Homo sapiens: one gene and its partners. The protein of the gene in region 1 interacts with the protein of each later gene in a pairwise test. Each region holds a gene or a part of one and is shown in the gene's direction. Other genes may lie near its edges. The genes, in order: CHRM5, TMEM161A, ATP9A, GOLGA8A, SLC2A6 and CD82.

Region 1 (3,500 bases):
ACATCCATTTCGTGTATGTTGACATAACAATCTTAAAAAGTAATTTTTGTCTGAAATACCAAGCAACATAATTTTGTATATAAAATTAGAAACATACCTAAAATTCATTTTTCTGTGTTAGCATTCAACTTAAAGGGACATTGCATAATATTTTTAAATGCATTAAATATATATTTACTTATATCTTCATTATTATAACTTTAAGTTTTCATAAGGAATTTTTTTCATTCCATTATAATGGCACCGTGTTTCAAGCTTAATTCAACTGGGCATTTCAACTAGCCAATATATTTGTTCCTTATTATGGTTAATTTTCCTTATGAAGTGACCAAATTTGAATAAGGATGTAGTTCACCATGAAGATCATCTCCTCTCCAGCTTCTTCCTGCTGAGAGAGAACAATCTTTGGTTTGTGACATCACAATCTGTGACTGGGAAGTGGCTCTGATATCAAACAGATGATTATATGCTTTCAGTGTGAACTAGCTAAAAGAGAGATGTAAGCACTATTATTTCAAGTCATATCACCAAGACACTAAAGAGATGCATGACAGGAACTGAATTAGAGAAAGATGCTTTTATTGCATTTGTCACTTTTTCAGCATCAACTATTAAAGATAAAAGTACCATCTCACAGTTTTCTCATTAATAATTCAAAAGCGGGAGTAAACATCATGTTGGTTAAATTCACAGACCATGATAAAACGGGAGTAAGGAAAATACCAGTAAGCAAGCAGACAGTCATGAAAGAGGCCCCTAGAGAACTGAGAAATAGATGCAAAATTTCACCTTGGTTCAAGCAGAAATACTGATGCTACTCAGAAAATTGAAAAATTACCAAAACACCCAAAATGAGAAAGACGGTGTCTCTGAATGAGAAAGAGATCCCTAAATATAGATTATAAAGTGATCCCATGACATAGATTAATTAGTATCTGACACATGGACTAGTATGAGGGCAGGGAGGGGGCTGGTTAACACCTTTCTAAAACAGCATGGATTTGTTAAAAAACAAAAACAACAACAGAAAACAAAAACAAAAACAAAAACAAAAAAACAAAGGACTGTCTTGAATTAGCAAAACTTCTGTGTTCTCTGAAAGTCTTCAACAAATATTTGTAAAAAATAAATAAAAATAAATCAGGAGTTAGGGTTCAATTAAGGAAACAAAAATGAAAGCTCCTTTTACAAACACATAGGCATATACAGACCTCTTTTTGTAATCTTTGTTTGCAACAGTAGCCAAAAGACAAAGCAGACCAACTAATCCTTCCACACTGAACACATGTGCAGTCTGTCCTTTGATTAGTGGCAATACCCTGATTCAGAGTATCAGTCATTTGTGACTGACCCTCCTAGACTCAGAGCCTATACAAAGATGATGTGTAAAAAATACAGTTAACTACTCCACGCATAATTACAAGTCAAGCTGAAGTCTCATTATCTACAGTTACACAGATTGCTTGATCCAGTGGTGTGTAGAGAATTCTTAAAGCATTTATTCAGTCCTATGTACTGGTTCATTACAACCAATGGGTTATTCAGCAGTTGTTTAAAGATCTGACATTCTCCATTTTTTGTATTGAAATTATTAGTGAAATAACTCAAGAATCTGGACCAATCAGAAAACATTACCACTTTTATAGACATTGTTTGACGTCACACTGTTGTCATCATCAGACTACGTGGGCCTTCTTATTTCCTGATTATCACTATAGAAATGTAGCACTGAATAATGTGTTCTTTAAGAAGCAAAAGCCAGAGATGATTTCCAGTTCAGTTATCAACTAAAAATCCTTAGCTATTTATAGAATTTTTTGGTACAGTAACCTAGAAAGCTGTTGGTGTAAATCTATCAGGCTCAGTATATAACATAGTACAACTCTTAATATTTCATCAACTGTATACCTTCCCTTCATTTGTGTTGCAAAGACAGTCCTCTACATGCAGTAACTTCTGGGTAACTTCTGGTAATACCTACAGAAGAGCTTCTCATGCCTAGGAACTTCCCCAACACTTTGAGGATACTTCTTTCATAACACCTTGTTAGATTCCATTGAAAACCTATTTATGGCCAAGCGCAACCTGTAATCCCAGCACTCTGGGAGGCCAAAGCTGGAGGATCGCTTGAGGCCAGGAGTTCGAGACCCACCTAGGCAACACAGCAAGACTCCATCTCTATAAAAAAATCTAAAAGTTAAAAAAATAAGAAAATCTATTTATATAGTTGTCTGACATACGAAATTGCATTTTTCATGGTTGAGGGCCTTAAGAGTAAAGACCACATCTAATTTATCTGTCTATTCCCAAGGTAAGCTCAGGACTAGTTAATCAGCAGATGTGTTAAATGAATGTGAAAATGTATCTTAATGCATTCTCAGGTACAATCTCAGACAGCCAGAAGAATAGTGATCCTAAAATATACCTCAGCTGCATTTCACTGATAATAGGCAAGTAGGTAACTGCAGAAAAGTCTAATGAAGGAGTCTTTTAAAGTAGTTTATACTGAAATAATAGCTATAAGGAGATAATATCTGTTAGGGATAGTATATGATATTATGAGGTATGCAAATACAGGATAGCAAATTTATCCCTTATGCTTTTGCTCTATTTGACATATGGAAATCACGTTTGCTATACTACTAGATCTAGAATTTCATCGATAATCCAAAAGGATCTAAATTGGTCTTGCTATTAAAAAGTGACTTCAGGGGAATTTGAATAAGTACTTTGCAAATGAAATTGAAGAGATACTACAGTCATCTTTCTATTCAAAGATGAGTGGAGAAAGTGACACACTTAAAATCTTACATTTATTCTGTTGGATGCTCTACCTGCCCCCTCTCCCTCTTTCACTCTCTGTGAGGAATGAATCTTTGCAAGTTACCTATGTTATATCTCCCCAAGTCATCTCTTCTCCTTATGCCAACATACAATATACCAACAATGGTGATTTCTTTAAAAGCAGGGACAAAGGCTAAAAGACTATGCTGTGCCTCAACCCCTATGATAGAAATTAAAGTAGCAGAGTGTTGAAGTAGGCCAGCATCACTCTAGAATTCATCAACATGTGTGTTGGGGTGGGGGCAGCTATAGTCTGAAGATGCTCAGGGTACATGAATAATGCATGTGTACGTCCTCACAGAAATCTGTGATTTGATGTTGGCGTGCACAACTTAAGATTTTGAGCTTTGGGCCGGGCACAGTGGCTCACGCCTGTAATCCCAGCACTTTGGGAGGCCGAGGCAGGTGGATCACCTGAGGTCAGGGGTTTGAGACCAGCCTGGCCAACATGTTGAAACCCCGTTTCTAATAAAAATACAAAAATTAGCCGGGTGTGGTGGTGCATGCCTGTAATCCCCGCTACTTGGAGGCTGGGGCCGGAGAATCGCTTGAACCCAGGAGGTGGAGCTTGCAGTGAGCCAAGATTGCACCATTACGCTCCAGCCTGAGCAACAAGGGCGAAACTCTATCCTGAAGGAAAAAAAGAACAACAGATT
Region 2 (3,500 bases), on another chromosome or scaffold:
TTTTTTGTTTTTGTTTTTGTTTTGAGATGGAGTTTTGCTCTTGTCACCCAGGCTGGAGTGCAACTGTGCAATCTCAGCTCACTACAACCTCTGCCTCCTGGGTTCAAGCAATTCTTCTGCCTCAGCCTCCTGAGTAGCTGGGATTACAGGTGCACGCCACCACGCCTGGCTAATTTTTGTATTTTTAGTAGAGACGGGGTTTTACCATGTTGGCCAGGCTGGTCTCAAACTCCTAACCTCAGGTGATCCACCCACCTCGGCCTCTCAAAGTGCTGGGATTACAGGTGTGAGCCATCACACCTGGCAGTTTACCCAAGTTTTGACTGATATTTTTTATTATTCTGTTTGGGGTGTTTTAACATTTCCCTTCTGATTTCTGTAGAGATGGGGTCTTGCTATGCTTTGACCTATGGATTATTAAATATTTTTAAATTTTTCAAACATAGATCTTTAAAAAATACATATTTATTTCTAGCTCAATTGCACAGATGGTCTATTTGAAATAATTTCTTTAAAATTTGGTAAGATTTGCCCTATGGCCTGGAATGTGATCACATTTTGTGACTATTCCTTGTTTTCTTGAAGGACATATTCTGTTTTTGTTGTTTTGCCTTTTTTCACATGTTCTAATTGAAGGACATATTCCCTGGCTCTATGAGTTTAATAAATTCAAATCTCCATCTTGCCTAACCTTTTGTCTGTGACTTATCAGTCAGCAGAAGTTAATCTCCCTCTGGGACAAGAGAGCTCTCAATTTCCCTATCAATTCTGTCAGTGTTTTCTTTATATATTTTGCAGCCTATTCACAATTCACAGATTAGTTCTATTCACAGATTTAGAACTGTTACATTTTCCTGGTGAATCAGCCATTTTATCATGATGTATGGAACCCTTCTGTCTTCTAATACTACTTTTTTTTTTTTTGAGACAGAGTTTTGCTCTCGTTGGCCAGGCTGGAGTGCAGTGGCGCAATCTCGGCTCACTGCAACCTCCACCTCCTGGGTTCAAGCGATTCTCCTGCCTCAGCCTCCCAAGTAGCTGGTATTACCCGCCACCATGCCCAGCTATTTTTTGGATTTTTAGTAGAGCCAGGGTTTCACCATGTTGGCCAGGCTCGTCTCGAACTCCTGACTTTGTGATCTGCCCGTCTTGGCCTCCCAAAGTGCTGAGATTACAGGTGTGAGCCACCGCGCCTGGCCTATTCTAATACTACTTCTTAGTCTAGTTTGGCTGGTAGTAGTATAGCCTTTCTAGCTTGCTTTCTTTTGATTAGTATTTGCTGTATCTTTTTAACATCCCTTTACTTTCAGTCTTCCAGTGACTTTATGTCAAGGTATGTCATCCTTTAAAAAACATGTAGCTGGATATTTTCAATGTAGTCTGACAGTCTTTGTCATTTAACTTTAAAGTTTAGTCTACTTACATTTATTGTGATTACTGACATATTTGACTTTGTTTCTACCATCTTACTTTTTTGCTTTCTATTTGTTCCTTTTCTGTTGTTGCAGTTGACATTGGCTGTCAGCCTAATTGTTGTTCCTTTGTAGGTGATCTGTCTTAACTCCCTGGCTGCTTTGTAATTTTTTTGTTTTTGGTGTTCTGCAGTTTCACTCCATTATGTCTAGGTATGGATTTCTTTTTATTTACATGGTTTGATATACTTTGTGTCTGTCTTTCATTCTGCAAACTTCTCAACCATTCTCTTCCAGTAATTCCTTTTATTCTTCATTCCTTCTCTTCCCTCCCTCTGGGGCTCTGATTTGATTTGCGTTGGGCTCTCTGTTCTGTCTTCCTTATCTCTTAGCCTCTCTTCATATTTCTCACCTACTTGTTTTTCTGAGTTGGAATCTGAGTGATTTCTTCAGATCTGTCTTCCAGTTCATCACTTCCTCCTTTGGCTGTTCCTAATGTGCTGTTTAACAACCTATTATTTCAATACTTACAGTTTTCCTTTGGAAGAGTTTAATTTGGTTCCTTTGCAACTCTACCCAGTCATCTGAAGGAATTCTCATGTCACTTGTTCTGTGATTACAGCTTTCATTTCCTTAGTCATTTGACACATAATTGACAGCACCAATTTCTGAAGTCTTTGAGGCCTAAACTTGACTGTTGTTTTTCTGTTAACTCTCCTTTATGGTGATTTGTTTCCTTATGCATTTGGTGATTTTGCCTGTGAGCTCATATGAATTTGCTCCTTTTTTTTTTTTTTTTTGACAAGGTCTTGCTCTGTGCTGGAGTGCAGTGGCATGATCTCAGCTCACTGCAACTTCCACATCCTGGGCTCAACCCATCCTTCCCACCTCAGCCTTCACAGTAGCTGGGACTATAGGCGTGCACCACCACCCCTGGTTTTGTATTTTTTGTAGAGATGGGGGTTTTGCCATGTTGCCCAGGCTGGTCTCAAACTTGTGAGCTCAAACGATCCACCCGCCTTGGCCTCCCAAAGTGCTGAGACTTACAGGTGCAAGCCACTGCACCCAGCCCTGCTCTTAATTTTTGAAAAATCTTGGGTCCTGAATTGAGGATTCCTTCCTCCAGGAGGACTTTGGTTTTCTCCTGCAGGAGTCCTTCATCCCCCTCTAGATTCCTTCTATAACCTAGGGAGCTCAGGCTCAACAGATACCCCTGAATGTTCCCAGCCCAATCAGGAGTGTCTGCCTGGTGCATTCTGTTTCGTTTTCTTTGAGACTGAGTTTCACTCTTGTCCCCAAGGCTGGAGTGCAATGGTGCGGTCTCAGCTCACTGCAACCTCCGCTCCCCATGTTCAAGCGATTCTCCTGCCTCAGCCTCTCAAGTAGCTGGGATTACAGGCACCTGCCACCACACCTGGCTAATTTTTGTATTTTTAGTAGAGACGGGGGTTTCACTGCATTGGCCAGGCTGGTCTGAAACTCCTGATCTCAGATGATCCGCCTGCCTCAGCCTCCCAAAGTGCTGGGATTACAGGCGTGAACCACCACTCCAATCTTGTTTCTTGTAAAAAGTACTGTGTAACTAGAGCACAAAATTGTCCTTGTGCCTGGCTCAGGGCCTGGCAGACCCTTGTTCATTCCTACTTGGGAAGCAAACGGATGCCTGAGGGATGGGGGGTTAGGGAACAGAGTGGCCTTAGAGACCCTAGGAATTCACTCTACTCGGTCCTCTTCTTATCGTCCCCAGGTCTGGCCAGCATGACCCAGAACTTAGAGCCACTTCTGAAGAAGCAGGGCTGGGACTGGGCGTGAGTCCTGGGAATGGGGGAGGGAGGCAAGGGCAGGCTGGGACCCTCCCAGGGTCCCCCAGGCAGGCTCGTGACCTGGTGTTCTCCTAGGCTTCCTGTGGCCAAGCTGGCTATCCGCGTGGGACTGGCAGTGGTGGGCTCTGTGCTGGGTGCCTTCCTCACCTTCCCAGGCCTGCGGCTGGCCCAGACCCACCGGGACGCACTGACCATGTCGGAGGACAGACCCATGCTGCAGTTAAGTGGGTCGCTTGGTGGGTGGGGGGACTAGGGAGCTTAAGGG
Region 3 (3,500 bases), on another chromosome or scaffold:
TTCCAGTAGTGGTTTGGGAGTACCTCCTTCTAGCCCTGTGCTAATGCCATGCTCTTAACCTTTTGGGGGTCGTGGTCCCTTTGAGAAGCTGATGAAAGTCAGGCACTCCCCCCGAAAGATGCAGATCCACTCATACACATGAAATTATGCATGGGATTCCTGGGATTTCACGGAACCCCTGAAAGTCAAGTCCTTGGATAAGAAAGAAATTCCAGGCCACAGATACTGGTCCATCTGCCCTCCTGAGAGGGGAAGCATTTAGGACCATTGAGGAGCCTTTTGAAGGAGGTGAACTGGATGGGCAAATGAGAAATCGCCCGCCCTTGTGGCAGACATTGACCAAGACAATGTGCACATCAGGAACTGCTGCCAGTGAGGACTGTGCTAGGCTTTATTGCATTGGGGAGGTAGGGGGACCGGGTCCTCTTTGGGGCAGGATATAGTAATCCCACTGATCTGAAACCAGAGCCACGATGGCAAACCACTGGAGGGTCTCTAGATGTTTGGGGGTCTCGCCCTCACCCCGCCTTTGGTCCATAGCACACAGAAGCTTCAAAAAATCCAGGGATTTTTGAAATAGCATAGTATTGTATAGAGGCAGGTACAGTCAGTTCTCATCATTCACAGATTCTTTGTGAATTCTCCTCCTCCCAAAATTTATCTGTGACCTCCAAATCAGTACTCTTGATATTTTCACTGTCATACGTAGAGTGGCTTAAATCTCTCCTTTTTTTTTTTTTTTTGAGATGGGGCCTTGCTCTTATCACCCAGGCTGGGGTGCAGTGGTGCAATCTTGGCTCACTGCAACCTCCGCCTCCTGGGTTCAAGCAATTCTTCTGCCTCAGCCTCCCAAGTAGCTGGGATTACAGGCGCCTGCCACCACACCTGGCTAATTTTTGTGTTTTTAGTAGAGACGGGTTTCACCATTTTGGCCAGGCTGGTCTCGAACCCCTGACCTCAGGTGATTCTCCCACTTCAGCCTCCCAAAGTGCTGGGATTACAGGCGTGAGCCACCGCGCCTGGCCTAGAGTGGCTTAAAATTTTAGCTGCCTGAGACACACATTCCCACCTGAGGCTGAACAAGCTCACGCACTCCCCCCTCCTTTCAGCCCCGTGTGACGAACCAGTGTCGTTTTTGCAGTCCATCGAGTATCCGGTTTTTTGCATTTTTATGCTTTTTGTTGGCAGTTTGTCGTTTAAAATGGCCGCACACAGCGCTTCTTTGCTGGCTTGTTTTCTGGAACTTGAACTTCCCAACATCCATAAGTCACATCAACAGGAAGGCTGTTGATGTGACTTATGGAGCGAATGCGTGTGTTAGATGAGCTTCCTGCAGGCATGAGTTACAGAACTGGTGGCTGTGAGCTCAATGTTAATGAATCCAGGTGTCTTTAAGTAGAAACGCACATAAAATAAGGTTATATATTTATGAAGATATTGCAACCAGGGGCAAAAACCTAACCCTGTATTTCCCCTACAGGTGATGGTTTAGTATTTGCTAATTCAGTGTTCACAGTGACTTTAGAAAACATAGCTACTATGAATAATGAGAATTGACTGTCTGTTCTAGAATTCAGGGATTGCAAACTAATGACCTATGTGCTAGCCACCTGTTTTTCTAAACAGCAGGTATTTTGTTTTATTGGAGTGTAGACAGACCGGCTCGTTTGCATATGGTGTACGACTGCTTTTGGATTACAACGGCAGAGCTGAGTGGTTGTGATGGAGACCATGTGGTCCTCAAAGCCTACAATAGTTAACATCTGGTCCTTTACAGAAAAGTGGCCCAGTCCCTGCTAGGTGCCTGGCTCTGCATACCTGGGCTACAGCATACTAGCCATGTGCCTTTAGTCAGGTTAGCAGATGTCACCATGCTTCAGTTTCCTTAGGTGCAAAATAGAGCTTCTTCTTTTTGGCACCTCATAGAGCCGTTGTGAGAAATAAATGAGAAAAATCCACCGAATGCATCATCCAACACCTGGCCGAAAATGAAAGTACAGGCTTTTTTTTTTTTTTTTTTTGAGACAGAGTTTTGCTCTTGTTGCCCAGGCTGGAGTGCAATGGCATGATCTCGGCTCACCGCAACCTCCACCTCCCAGGTTCAAGCGATTCTCCTGCCTCAGCCTTCCCAAGTAGCTGGGATTATAGGCATGTGCCACCAAGCCCGGCTAATTTTGTATTTTTAGTAGAGATGGGGTTTCTCCATGTGGGTCAGGCTGGTCTTGAACTCCTGACCTCAGGTGATCCGCCCACCTCAGCCTCCCAAGGTGCTGAGATTACAGGTGTGAGCCACCGTACCTGGCCCCCCCCCCCCTTTTTTTTTTTTAAAAGACGAGTCTTGCTCTGTTGCCCATACTGCCAGTGCAGTGGCATGATCTCGGCTCACTGCAGCCTCTGCCTCCTGGGTTCAAGTGATTCTCCTGCCTCAGCCTCCCAAGTAGCTAGAATTACAGGCACCCACCACCATGCCCAGCTAATTTTCTATTTTTAGTAGAGAGTGGGTTTCACCATGTTGGCAAGGCTGGTCTCAAACTCCTGACTTCAAGTGATCTGCCCGCCTCAGCCTCCCAAAGTGCTGGGATTACAGGCATGAGCCACTGCGCTTGGCCAGTACAGGCATTTTTAGTCCTGGGGGAAATTGTAGGTGGTGGTTGGCACATGGGCTCTCTTGATTCCTGCAGAGTCAACCAATAGGATTCCATTTGGTGCTGCCTCTGGTGGCAGGGGAGGGGAGGGACCCTTGGCTGGGGTGGCCGTTGTCTTCATGTGGGCTCCTGGAAGCCACTGTTTGTTGTTCTATCATGTCCGGAGAGCAATGCCTCCTTCCCCATCTCTGTTCCCTTCCAGGTGACCAACCGCGGGGAGGCTCACCTCGAGCTGAACGCCTTCCGCAGGAAGCATGATTGTGCCCTGGTCATCTCGGGAGACTCCCTGGAGGTGAGCTTGGGGACCCCTGAGAGCCAGTCCTCCCAGCAGCCTGGGTCTTACCCGGCTTCGGCAGGGGCACTGCAGGCTCGGCAGCGACCTCCACCAACGCACCACCTCTCCCTCCACCAACGCACCACCTCTCCCTCCACCCTGCAGGTTTGCCTCAAGTACTATGAGTACGAGTTCATGGAGCTGGCCTGCCAGTGCCCGGCCGTAGTCTGCTGCCGATGTGCCCCCACCCAGAAGGCCCAGATCGTGCGCCTGCTTCAGGAGCGCACGGGCAAGCTCACCTGTGCAGTAGGTAGGCGAGGCTCAGGCTGTGCTGCTGGCCCTGGCCTGCCGGTGCACCAGGCTCCCTTTCCCTAAGGATATTTGGACACTGCTGCTCTTTCTTCAAATTCCCCAGGCCCCTTTGTTCAGGTCATGATTTTTCTCCACCTCTCAGACTTTGGCTCTTTTTGTTATTATTTTTAATATTTCCCTTGGAGAGTAGATAAGCACGTGCCAGGCCTCTACTCCTTTGCCAGTGGCTCAAGAGTGCAGCCTTCCAGGGGGTGGAGACCACACACTGT
Region 4 (4,147 bases), 460 kb from region 1:
ACAAAATTTATTTACATGTAGCCTCATGTTAATTTTAATTTTCTCTTGAAAGCACTGAATAAACTATGTGTTGTGTACCTGTGCTTTGGCTATGATACATTGCATGAGGTCAGGTGTAGAATTTTGTACTTGAGGCATCATATGGGCACCCAAAAAATTTCGAATTTGGGAGAGTTTTGGATTTCAGATTAAGGATGCTCATCCTTTGCCGGAATTCTACAGAAACTCAACCATACTTTTATTACTACCTTGGTGCAAAAGCAATTGCAATTTTTGGCAATGGCGAATACTGTAATTGTTTTTGTACTAACCTAATAACTACGGTTTTTATTATCCTCCTCCTTTGACATACAGAGAATATATTATTCTTCTGATATCATCTTCCATATGGCCCAAATATTTAGGAATTTCACATGATCATTTTTCTCAAAGCAAATGCATTTGTGGCCAAATTTTACAGTTATTACATAGCTAGCATGTTAACCTTGATATTATGTCACGTTTCAAATTTTGTTCCCTCTGATTTTAAACTGAATTGAGAAAAAAATAAACTTGGCTCTCTAGAAACGCAAAGAGTAAATGAGAAGTAATATGATATCGCACACTTAAAATATTTTAAAGCAGGCTTCTACTGTTACTGTTATTTTTTAGCACAAACCAAAAGTGACCATTTTCTTTGAATAAATAATAAAATTTTATATTTTAATAACATTGGCAAGCATTTTCTCATTTAAATATCTCAATTTTTAATGGAAAGTATTTCGTTTTATATAAGAGAAAAATATAAAAGGATCATGTGAGTTTATGAAAACGTCACAGATAGTGTATGATATGTTTTATGTTTATGTTTCATACTCCAAACCCAGTGGCTTTTGTGTTCAAAAACGACATTTGATTAGCAAGAGGAAATGGCCATTTTACTATTACTTATCTGGAATGGTAGCATATTCCAGATAAGTAAAGGAGAATCAGCCCCATCTTTAATACTGCCAACTGGATTTGTGTCATAAAGAGAAATTAGGGGACTAAAAAGGAAACATATAAGCCTTGTCTTTCCAGATTGGAGATGGATAAGTATATAAGGACTGACATACTATTGCTTTACAACAGTTTTCCCAGGACAAATTGAGACACCAGAAGCCAGCATATAGGTTGTGACTGATCTATTCAAATTGTTCCTAATAATGGCATCAGGGTTTTTTAAAAAAAAATTTTGTCATGCTTTAAGTTCTGGGATACACGTGCAAAACGTGCACGTTTGTCACCTAGGTATGCAGCTCAGTGCGCGTGCGCCATGTGGCGCGGCCCTGCGGGCTTTCCGTACTCCGCTCGCGGTAGGCTCCCGCCGCTATTCAGCTGTCGGGCTAATCAGCAGTCGAGGTGTGCGGCTAGGCGCGAGCTCTGCGGGAGCTCAGCCCCCGGGAGAGACCCGGCAGCGGCGCGGCGAGGACGGCGGCGCGGCGAGGACGGCGGCGCGGCGAGGACGGCGGCGCGGCGAGGACGGCGGCGCGGCGAGGACGGCGGCGCGGCGAGGACGGCGGCGCGGCGAGGACGGCGGCGCGGCGAGGACGGCGGCGCGGCGAGGACGGCGGCGCGGCGAGGACGGCGGCGCGGCGAGGACGGCGGCGCGGCGAGGACGGCGGCGCGGCGAGGACGGCGGCGCGGCGAGGACGGCGGCGCGGCGAGGACGGCGGCGCGGCGAGGACGGCGGCGCGGCGAGGACGGCGGCGGACCGGGGCAGCCCCGCGCCCTGGCCAGGTAAGCTGGGGAACCTCGGCTGCCTGACTCGCTGGCGGCGGCAGCCTTGGGCCGCCCGCGGCGCCGCGGGGACCCGGACGCGTGGGGGGCGGCGCGTAAGCTGCGGGCCAAGAGCTCCCGAGCGCTGCCCCCCGGACTCGGCGGGGCTGCGGGGAGGCCGCCGCTGGGATCTAGGGGTGCAGCCCGGCGGCCTTACGCCTCTCGGACCGGCCCATCCTCCTCCCACGATGGGCGGGCGGGTGCGGCGGGGACTAGGCGATGGCTTTCGCATCCCGGGAGGGGCTCACCGCGGCGAGGGGCCACTCTCGGCGCCGGCAAGTGGCGCTGTCTGGCGGGGCCGCCCGCTCGCGTCTCGCCGGGCTGGTCGGGCCGCTGGTGCGTTCCGCTGCCCGGCTTGGCGCCGGCATCAAGTCCCCGTGCCGGGCGGCAACTACTGAGTTTGGGATCGCCTCTGGGTTCACTTCCCTGGGAGAACTCGAGCCCGGATCTTCGCCCCTTCCCTTTCCCTGTATAATAAGGCCCAGAGGGAAAAACTCAAAAACCCCACACCTTGTTGCCCCTGGGCTGCAGGCGCCGGGTTGGGGGCACGGTGCGGACCTGCGCCTCTGCAGGGCCCCTTCTCCACGCCAGGCACTGCCTGGCAAGGCTGCTGGAGGGAGATCTGGCCGCAGATGGTGAAGGAGAACATCGAGGCCCCCGGTCCCCAAGCAGGGCTCCATGGGTCGGGCGGCGGGCCTTGGTAAGCCCAGGCTAGGGGCGAACTTCCTTTTCTCCGGGCCGACGCGGAGGGAGGGTGCGGGGAACGCCCGCGGAGGGGCCTGTCCTGCAGCACCCCAGTGGAGAGCAGAGCCTTAGAGGGGCCTGCTAGTCTTAACTTAGTATTTACTGGCAGAAGAAAGGCTTACTTTTTCAGATCTCTTCAGATAACGACCTGGCAGGCACCAGACGTAAATCTGTGGTTGAGTGCAGTCAGCTCCTAAACAGGCATGCGGTGGAGGAAGCGCCCCAAACTTGGCATCTTGTGTCTGGCACTTTGTTTTTGGGCTAAACTGCCTCTGGCGTCTTCAGCCTTCTGTGCCTCTTTGTTTTTGTTTGTTTTTCTATTTTCCTTCCTGTTTCAGAAAGGACAGTGGTTTTAGAAGTAATGACCTGAGAGCTTTGCAGGTTGAAGTGGGACAAGTTTTCCTAAGGTGCAGGTTGGCAGGTGCCAGGAGCCTGCCGGTGGCTTTTTCTCAGGCCTCTGGGTCAGGGTCCCTCCAGTGAGGTGAGGCAGGGGTTTCTCCCCTCCCAGAGGTGTGGCCACTACGCAGGGGGACAGGAACTGGGTTTCCCAGTCCGGGGAGTCCAGGATGCCCTGCACTCTGCGCTGATTCCTGGGTGACCGTGGGGGCTGCCTTCCCCCACAGCCTGGGCTGGAGAGGGTCTCCTGAGCTTAGGATCCGCGGGGCAGGAGGGCTGGGGTGACAAGGACACGTGGAACCTGCTGGGGCTCCGGGCAGTGTCCAGGGCGTGAGTAGATAAAGCTGGAGCTCGTAGCTGTGTGCTGGCAGCCCTCGGTGGGCTCTAGCAGTACTGGCAGGGGGGCCCTTGGAGTGGGCTCCCTCTCTGGGCTGGGACTGGGTGATGGCAGTAGCAATGGGGCACGAAGTCTTCCCTCTCATTTGTTAGGAAGTGTGGTCTGTGCTCCTCCCCACTGTCTGGCTCTTGGGCTGGGAGAAGCTGCAGGCTGAGTCCCACGGGGTGTGAGTGTGTGTGAGCAGGAGTGGGTGCTGGAAGGAGGTAAAGCTGGTGACCATCAGCTCCTCATTCTCTTGCACCTTGCATGTTTTCTCTGACACCGCAGACCCAAGTTGTGGCTTGCTGGTTAACTTGTTTACATAACCTTCTTAAGTAACTCTAAACTTTAAAAAAAAAAATGTTTTACAGGAATAATCGGTGGAGATGGATTGTGAAATGGAGGTGCATAAATATCCAGTTTGCCAACCGAGCTAAGAAATGCTGGATAAAAGTAAAAGGTAATTGTAAAAGACACTGATCACACCCCTGGAAGCTTAGAGATGGGATAAGACACTTTGATTTTTCCTAGACAAAACTGAGGAAGTCAGAGGAAAAACAGTTGATGGTGAGATTGGCATCAGGCTGGGCTTTGTTTGGATTGGGCCGCGGTGGCTGCAGTGAGGGCTGTTGGAGTGGGGAGAGTGGGGGTTGAGCCTGGCTGCAGAGGCCCCCTCCAGGCCTCAGCTCCTCTCCGGCACTCCTCCGTGTCCTCTGCCATGCATACCTGCCCCGGTGACTTAATAGGTGAGGGCCTCAGGTGACACCGTCGTCTGAAGTCTTGGAGAAACCTTTACTGTCCAGGGGAGGAGAGGACTGGCGGTCGGTGGGGATC
Region 5 (2,753 bases), on another chromosome or scaffold:
TGGCTGGAGAGGGGGGTCTCCAGCAGCTCAGCGGAGACAGACACAGCCGCCTCCAGTCACCCCACAGGGCCTGAACCTGCCTCCTCCTCCGAGCAGGCTACGCCGTGGGCTGGGGTCCCATCACCTGGCTGCTCATGTCTGAGGTCCTGCCCCTGCGTGCCCGTGGCGTGGCCTCAGGGCTCTGCGTGCTGGCCAGCTGGCTCACCGCCTTCGTCCTCACCAAGTCCTTCCTGCCAGTGGTGGTGAGTGTTCAGCCCCAGGCCCCAGGCCCCTAGGCCCTCTCTGACTGGCCAGGACCCTTCTCAGTGCCAGGGGCTGTGCCAAGGCCTGCTGTCAGGACCCTAACTCTCAGTGACCCTAGGAGATGAGCACACACCCCCTGAACTCAGAGACCCCAGAGTGGTCACGTGATAGCCTAGCAAACGCTCTTCATTATAAGAAACAGGAACGGGCGTAGGCAACTGTTCTGGGAAGTCAGGTTACCTCCTGGGCCAGGGCAGGACATGGCCCAGGACCCTGCCAGGGGCCCCGGAAGCCACCTCCCCACCGTGCCTCATCTCCCGCCCTCCTGGGCGCTGGGTCTCAGCAGCAGCCACACTCCCCCCTCAACCCCACCCACTCCCCCTGCCTCCTGGTTCAAAACTACGGGCCCTGTGACCAGCCAGAATCTGTGAGGCCCAGAGTAAGTTCCCATGAGGGAGAAGCTGGCTAGGGCAGCCTAGGCCAGCGCCTAAGCTGTCCCTGCAGTGGTCAGGGCAGGGGGGTTGGGGGAGGGCAGGCAACCCAGAGTGAGTCCATCAGCCTAGAGGGTCCAAGAAGAACCTGCGTGCCCACCAGGCTGCAGGGCGGGCCTCCTGCAGGCCGCGGCATGGAACAGCTGGGATGCCAGCGCTGGGTAGGGGGTGTGGAGGGGGTACCTGAGCTGACGCCAGAGGGCCCAGCCCCTGAGGAAGGCCGAGGGGCAGACGGGATGCAGACTTCAAGGGCTACTTCGGATTTGTCCTGGGGACAGTGGGGGAGCCCTGGTGTGGGGGGGCGGTCTCTGAACACAGGAAGGACCAGATGAAGGCCCCACAGGGCTGGTCACTACCAGCAGCGCCCACGAGCTCCTCTGGGGCAGGAGGACCCTGGAGCTTCTCCCTGTGACCCGGCCCCGCTCTTCACCCGCAGAGCACCTTCGGCCTCCAGGTGCCTTTCTTCTTCTTCGCGGCCATCTGCTTGGTGAGCCTGGTGTTCACAGGCTGCTGTGTGCCCGAGACCAAGGGACGGTCCCTGGAGCAGATCGAGTCCTTCTTCCGCACGGGGAGAAGGTCCTTCTTGCGCTAGGTCAAGGTCCCCGCCTGGAGGGGGCCAAACCCCCAGTGGCTGGGCCTCTGTGTTGGCTACAAACCTGCACCCTGGGACCAAGAGGCAGCAGTCATCCCTGCCACCAGCCAGAGCACAGGAAGAGCAGTGTGATGGGGCCTCAGCAGCGGGTGCCCCTGGCTCGGGACAGGTAGCACTGCTGTCCAGCCACAGCCCCAGCCCAGGCAGCCCACAGTGCTGCACGTAGCCATGGGCCGCAGGAGTGCATACAACCCTGCATCCAGGGACACGGCCCTGCTGGGTGACCTCAGGCCTAGTCCCTTTCCCTTGCGTGAAGGACACGCCCCACAGAAGGCTACGGGGAGGACTGAGAGGACAGGGCTGGAGGCAGCCAAGTAACGTAGTCATATCATCGCGCTCTGATCTGGTGGCATCTGGCTGTGCAAGGAAGACCCGGCTTTGCCCTCACAAGTCTTATGGGCACCACAGGGAACATCCTGGACTTAAAAAGCCAGGGCAGGCCGGGCACAGTGGCTCACGCCTGTAATCCCAGCACTTTGGGAGGCCAAAGCAGGTGGATTACCCAAGGCCAGGAGTTCAAGACCAGCCTGGCCAACATGGTGAAACCCCGTCTCTACTAAAAAATACAAAAAAGCTGGGTGTGGTGGCACACACCCGTAGTTCCAGCTACTTGGGAGGCTGAGGCAGCATTGCTTGAACCCGGGAGGTGGAGGCTGCAATGAGCTGAGATCATGCCATTGCACTCCAGCCTGGGCAACGAGAGTGAAACTCCGTCCCCACCCCCTGCCAAAAAAAAAAAAAAAAAAGCCAGGGCAAAGGACCTGGCGTGGCCACTTCCTCCTGCCCCAGCCCAACCTCTGGGAACAGGCAGCTCCTATCTGCAAACTGTGTTCACCCTTTTGTAAAAATAAAGGAACTGGACCTGTAGTCCTAGCGAGGAAAGAGTGGGGTCTACTCCAGGAGCCCCCACAGCAGCCAGGCTAGACCCGAACCAGCCAAGGTTGCCAGGGCCACTGACTGCTGATCCATAGCAAAAGCAGGGCAGGGAAAAGGCTGCAGTGAGGGGAAGCCCACTGCGAGGCCCACCCTTAACAGGCTCTTTCTAGCTGTGTGACCTTGGGCAGGTCACTTTCCTTGTCTGGGATGCTGGGGGCAGCCTCGGGACAGGACCTGTAGTTATTTCCTGGGCCAGCGGCTCCTGCCTGGCTTCCACACTCACACACAGGCACCAAGGCAGAAGGGAGCAGAGGGCAGGCACGCGAGCCACGGCCACGCTTTATTGCTTAAGACGCACACAGAACACAGAGGAACAAACAAGGAGGAAAGGGCGCCACACACAGCCCAGACCAGGCAGGAGCGGCCCAGCCGCCGGAAGAGACGTTCCTTGCAAGGCAGGGCCCCTGCTGGACAGCACGCCCCCTGGGCGA
Region 6 (3,500 bases), on another chromosome or scaffold:
AACTGAGAAAACACTATACCAACATCAACATCAACAAATAACATTTAATAGAACTTAGAACTTAATGGAACTTCACAAGACAAGATACTCTTGGTAGCTAAGGGCTAACTTGGGCACTGAGCTTCCTGGCAGTCAAGGCAAAAGTGGAAAATAGTGGATTTTGTAGATGAAAAGCAGCTTGTTTGGCTGTGAGACAGGAAGCCAGCAGTTAAGGGAGGGAAATTCCTTTCCCAGAAAAATGGTCATGGGGTCAGGTCTTCATTTCTGTCCTATGGCACTGAGCTTCTTTAGGACCTAGTTAGTGATATAATCAGGGTGGATTAGAACCAGGCCCCAGTGAGCCGGTTTCTATGACTCAGAAGCTGGTCGCCTCTGCAGGGATCTTGGGCAGTCCACCCTATGTGATTCACCATCTCACAGTAATAAATATGGCCCACCAGGTTGGCACCAACCACATGCCAGGAGCTGAGCTAGAAAAGTGAGCTGCAATACATGTTCAAATTTACAAACATTTTCCATTTGAAGAAACTGAGGCCCAGGAAAGCAAAGTGACTTTCAGCCACTGACACACACAGCTTGGATGCATCAGAGTGGGGATTTCCATCCTGATGCCTTGGAGTCCAAGGCCCATGCCTCCCTATCCACCACGCTGCCCTCCCGCCGGCTGGGTAACTCTGCTTGGCTGATAATGAGGAGCTTAGCCTCAGAGGTGTCCTATCAGCCCCAGAACAGGACTTGTTTGGAGATTTGGGTTTCTCGACCCCAGCCAAGCTCTGTGCATTGCACCCCCTGCCCCTGTCTTCCCCTTCAGAGTCCACACCCCCTAGTCCCAGCCTGCCTCACCTTAGTCCACCACCATCTTTTCTGGAAGGCAGGGGGAAATTTTCTGGCTTTGCTGAAGAAGTTCTGGTGCCACTGTATCGCCCGAATTGGAATGAACAATATATTTTTTTCTTTCGCAACGCATCATAAATCTCAGTGGAAGACTAAACATACTCTTGATGTGTTTATTCTGGCAGACAAGGCTCAGCGTGGGGGTGGGACTTGTTTGAACCTAAGGAAAAGAAAGGCCTTTTGAAAGGAGATAGGGCTCCCGTGCAGGTGGGTGGGAGTGACCCTGCTGTGGTCTCCAGGGCTGCCCTCTGTCCTTCCTGCCTCTGTCACCCGCAGCCACTCTTCTCAGGGCAGCGATGGGGAGGTTGGGGACCTTGGCATGGCCTGTCACCTCTGGAGCCTTGGGTTCTGCTTCTATAAATTGAGAATAAATCTGCCTCTCCCTGCTCTACCACTCAGGTTGAAGTGAACACAGACTGTGACACTTCTGTGAAAATGCAGAATGGTGTCCAAGGGTCTTGACTGTGGAACCACTGCTCTGACATTCTGGGCATGCTACTCAGCCTCCCTGTGCCTCAGTTTCCACATTTGTCAAACTAGTAACAATATAGGCCCACTGTCCCTTCTCTGCAATTCTGAAATCCAAAGAAACACTTTAAAAACCAAAAGTAGCATTTGCAACTAATTTGGTGGCAAAATTGAACCTGAACAGAAGCAAGGCTATGTATGGCCTTTGCCTGCCCCATTCGGGTGTCCCTAGGGAAATAGAAATGAGACTCACTGCAGGCTGCTGCCCCAGCCCCCACTAGTGGGTGTGATCTGTCCCTCCAGGCCCTTTCTAAAATCTGATCCTGTCTCGAGCCGGAGCCCCCAGGGGCTGCCTTGCAGCACTTCAGAGATGAAGAGCACTAACAAACGGGAAGGGCGTCGTGCGGCACTCAGCCGGAGGCTGATGTTGCTGGCATCATTGCCAGTGTTTATTATTATTGCCGCCATTATTCACTTCATGAAGGCCTGGTAAGGGCTCAATAGGTGGCAGCTGTTCCTGCTGCCCTCGTTGTCAGCAGAGCAAGGGCTGCGGGAATGGGGATCTGGGCACGGTGCTAAGATCCTCATCTGCTTGTTTATCCAGCCTCTGGTGAGCAGAGCCCAGCCCTGGGATTCAGGGGCCCTGTGTTTTAGTGTGGGCTCTGCCGCTGATTGCTGTGTGGCTTCGGATAAGTTACCCAGACTCTCTGATCCACAGGCGAGCTCTTGGGCCATGCCCAGTGCAGGCAGTCAGGGATTCTGACTTGTTCTCTCTAGAGAGTGGAGGTGGGAGGAGTGAGAAGGAAGTGAATGCAGTTTGCCCTTTCCTGTGGTGTGTGGGTGCTGAGCTGGGTGCACTTGGCAGGCCATACCTGTGCCAGGGAGGCCCCTGAGGCTCTGAGTGCTGTCACGCTCAAGCAGAAGACATTGGAGGGGAAGGGGCTCACTTGGCCTGGCTGGGAGCCAGAGGTGGGGGCTGTGACAGTGGCAGTGGCTGGCCAGACAACTCCCCAGAGATGTTGGTCAGGGGAACTGTGACTTCCTTCTTGTCCTCCTTGCTCTCACCCTGAAAGCCCCAAATTGTTGGTGCGCACATACCCTCATGTGTGAGACACAGGTGGCGAGACGGGTTCCTAGGGGACAGTGTGGTTCTCTGTGAACTGTCTGCTTGCTGAATTAGAACTTCCTGATTCTCTGGCTTGGGGTTCTCTTGCGATGGGGCAGAGGGAGGAAGAGCAGCTGGAGCCTGGGACAGGGAGAGGTGACCTTTCTCTCCCCTGTTGAGAAGGGAATGGAGGAGTCCAGGCTACCCCTCTGGAAAGGGATTATGGAAAGACACTTGGGCTAGAATCTCTGAAGCACACGCTGGTCACTGGCTCTGCATTCTGGGGTAGCTAATTACGTGGATTGCAGCTGGACTTGCAGAAAAGATGCAGGAAGCGCCCTCATTTCCTATCAGGGTACTGGGATGCAGCCTCTGAGCTGGTGTATCTGTATTCTAGCAAAGCATTTGCCAACATCTCATGTGGGAAACCTGGAGAGGACAGGAAGATGTGGGTCCAATTCATGCATTTATACCTTATTATAAGGGGCTATTTCACACCTTAAAGAGCATGGCAAGAGGTCTGCACAGCACCCCAAGGGGCGGGCACAGGAGCCCGAAAAGTTACCCTGGAGATGTAGTCTAGTCTCAAGTATCTGGATGACATGTGTCCTTCGAGAGAGGGATTTGATTTGTTCCTGTGGTCCTAGCTGGGACTTGGGTAGCTGAGAGAGGAGGAGGATGTGAACTAATACAAGTGGGTAGAAGTCATTTGAGCAGAACTTAAATTGTATCAGAGCCTCTCAACTCCGCAACATGCTATTGTGTGAGGTACTGACTTCCCCATCGCAGGGAGCATTTAAGCAGAGCCTAAAAAAGCATGACTCTTACATTTGGATGATTTGCTGGACGCAAAGGTCTCTCCTAACTCTGACTCTGTGAAAATTCACACTAAAAGAGAAGTCAAAGCTCAGCATTTGGGTGGGACGTGAGTAGAGCCATGCAGAGGACAGCAGGGTCATGGGGAGGCCCTGGGCAGCTTGCCGAGGCTAAGATCCCGGGTCCCTGGAGCTGCACAGATCAAGGTCTGGTCATG

What was found.
Region 2: the proteins of CHRM5 (region 1) and TMEM161A interact in a two-hybrid assay, tested with the Homo sapiens proteins (one large-scale study listed by BioGRID and IntAct).
Region 3: the proteins of CHRM5 (region 1) and ATP9A interact in a two-hybrid assay, tested with the Homo sapiens proteins (one large-scale study listed by BioGRID and IntAct).
Region 4: the proteins of CHRM5 (region 1) and GOLGA8A interact in a two-hybrid assay, tested with the Homo sapiens proteins (one large-scale study listed by BioGRID and IntAct).
Region 5: the proteins of CHRM5 (region 1) and SLC2A6 interact in a two-hybrid assay, tested with the Homo sapiens proteins (one large-scale study listed by BioGRID and IntAct).
Region 6: the proteins of CHRM5 (region 1) and CD82 interact in a two-hybrid assay, tested with the Homo sapiens proteins (one large-scale study listed by BioGRID and IntAct).

What each region holds. Positions count from the first base shown.
Region 1 is NC_000015.10:33,971,497-33,974,996, forward strand, and holds part of CHRM5 (muscarinic acetylcholine receptor M5), read left to right. Parts: intron 1-3,500. UniProt on the Homo sapiens protein: The muscarinic acetylcholine receptor mediates various cellular responses, including inhibition of adenylate cyclase, breakdown of phosphoinositides and modulation of potassium channels through the action of G proteins.
Region 2 is NC_000019.10:19,121,479-19,124,978, reverse strand, and holds part of TMEM161A (transmembrane protein 161A isoform 1 precursor), read left to right. Parts: intron 1-3,159; coding exon 3,160-3,220; intron 3,221-3,310; coding exon 3,311-3,454; intron 3,455-3,500. UniProt on the Homo sapiens protein: May play a role in protection against oxidative stress. Overexpression leads to reduced levels of oxidant-induced DNA damage and apoptosis.
Region 3 is NC_000020.11:51,618,391-51,621,890, reverse strand, and holds part of ATP9A (probable phospholipid-transporting ATPase IIA), read left to right. Parts: intron 1-2,847; coding exon 2,848-2,937; intron 2,938-3,084; coding exon 3,085-3,229; intron 3,230-3,500. UniProt on the Homo sapiens protein: Plays a role in regulating membrane trafficking of cargo proteins, namely endosome to plasma membrane recycling, probably acting through RAB5 and RAB11 activation. Also involved in endosome to trans-Golgi network retrograde transport.
Region 4 is NC_000015.10:34,435,009-34,439,155, reverse strand, and holds the start of GOLGA8A (golgin subfamily A member 8A), read left to right. Parts: upstream 1-1,347; 5' UTR 1,348-1,758; intron 1,759-3,684; 5' UTR 3,685-3,773; intron 3,774-4,147. UniProt on the Homo sapiens protein: May be involved in maintaining Golgi structure.
Region 5 is NC_000009.12:133,470,594-133,473,346, reverse strand, and holds the end of SLC2A6 (solute carrier family 2, facilitated glucose transporter member 6), read left to right. Parts: intron 1-96; coding exon 97-242; intron 243-1,170; coding exon 1,171-1,326; 3' UTR 1,327-2,253; downstream 2,254-2,753. UniProt on the Homo sapiens protein: Probable sugar transporter that acts as a regulator of glycolysis in macrophages. Does not transport glucose.
Region 6 is NC_000011.10:44,607,163-44,610,662, forward strand, and holds part of CD82 (CD82 antigen), read left to right. Parts: intron 1-3,500. UniProt on the Homo sapiens protein: Structural component of specialized membrane microdomains known as tetraspanin-enriched microdomains (TERMs), which act as platforms for receptor clustering and signaling.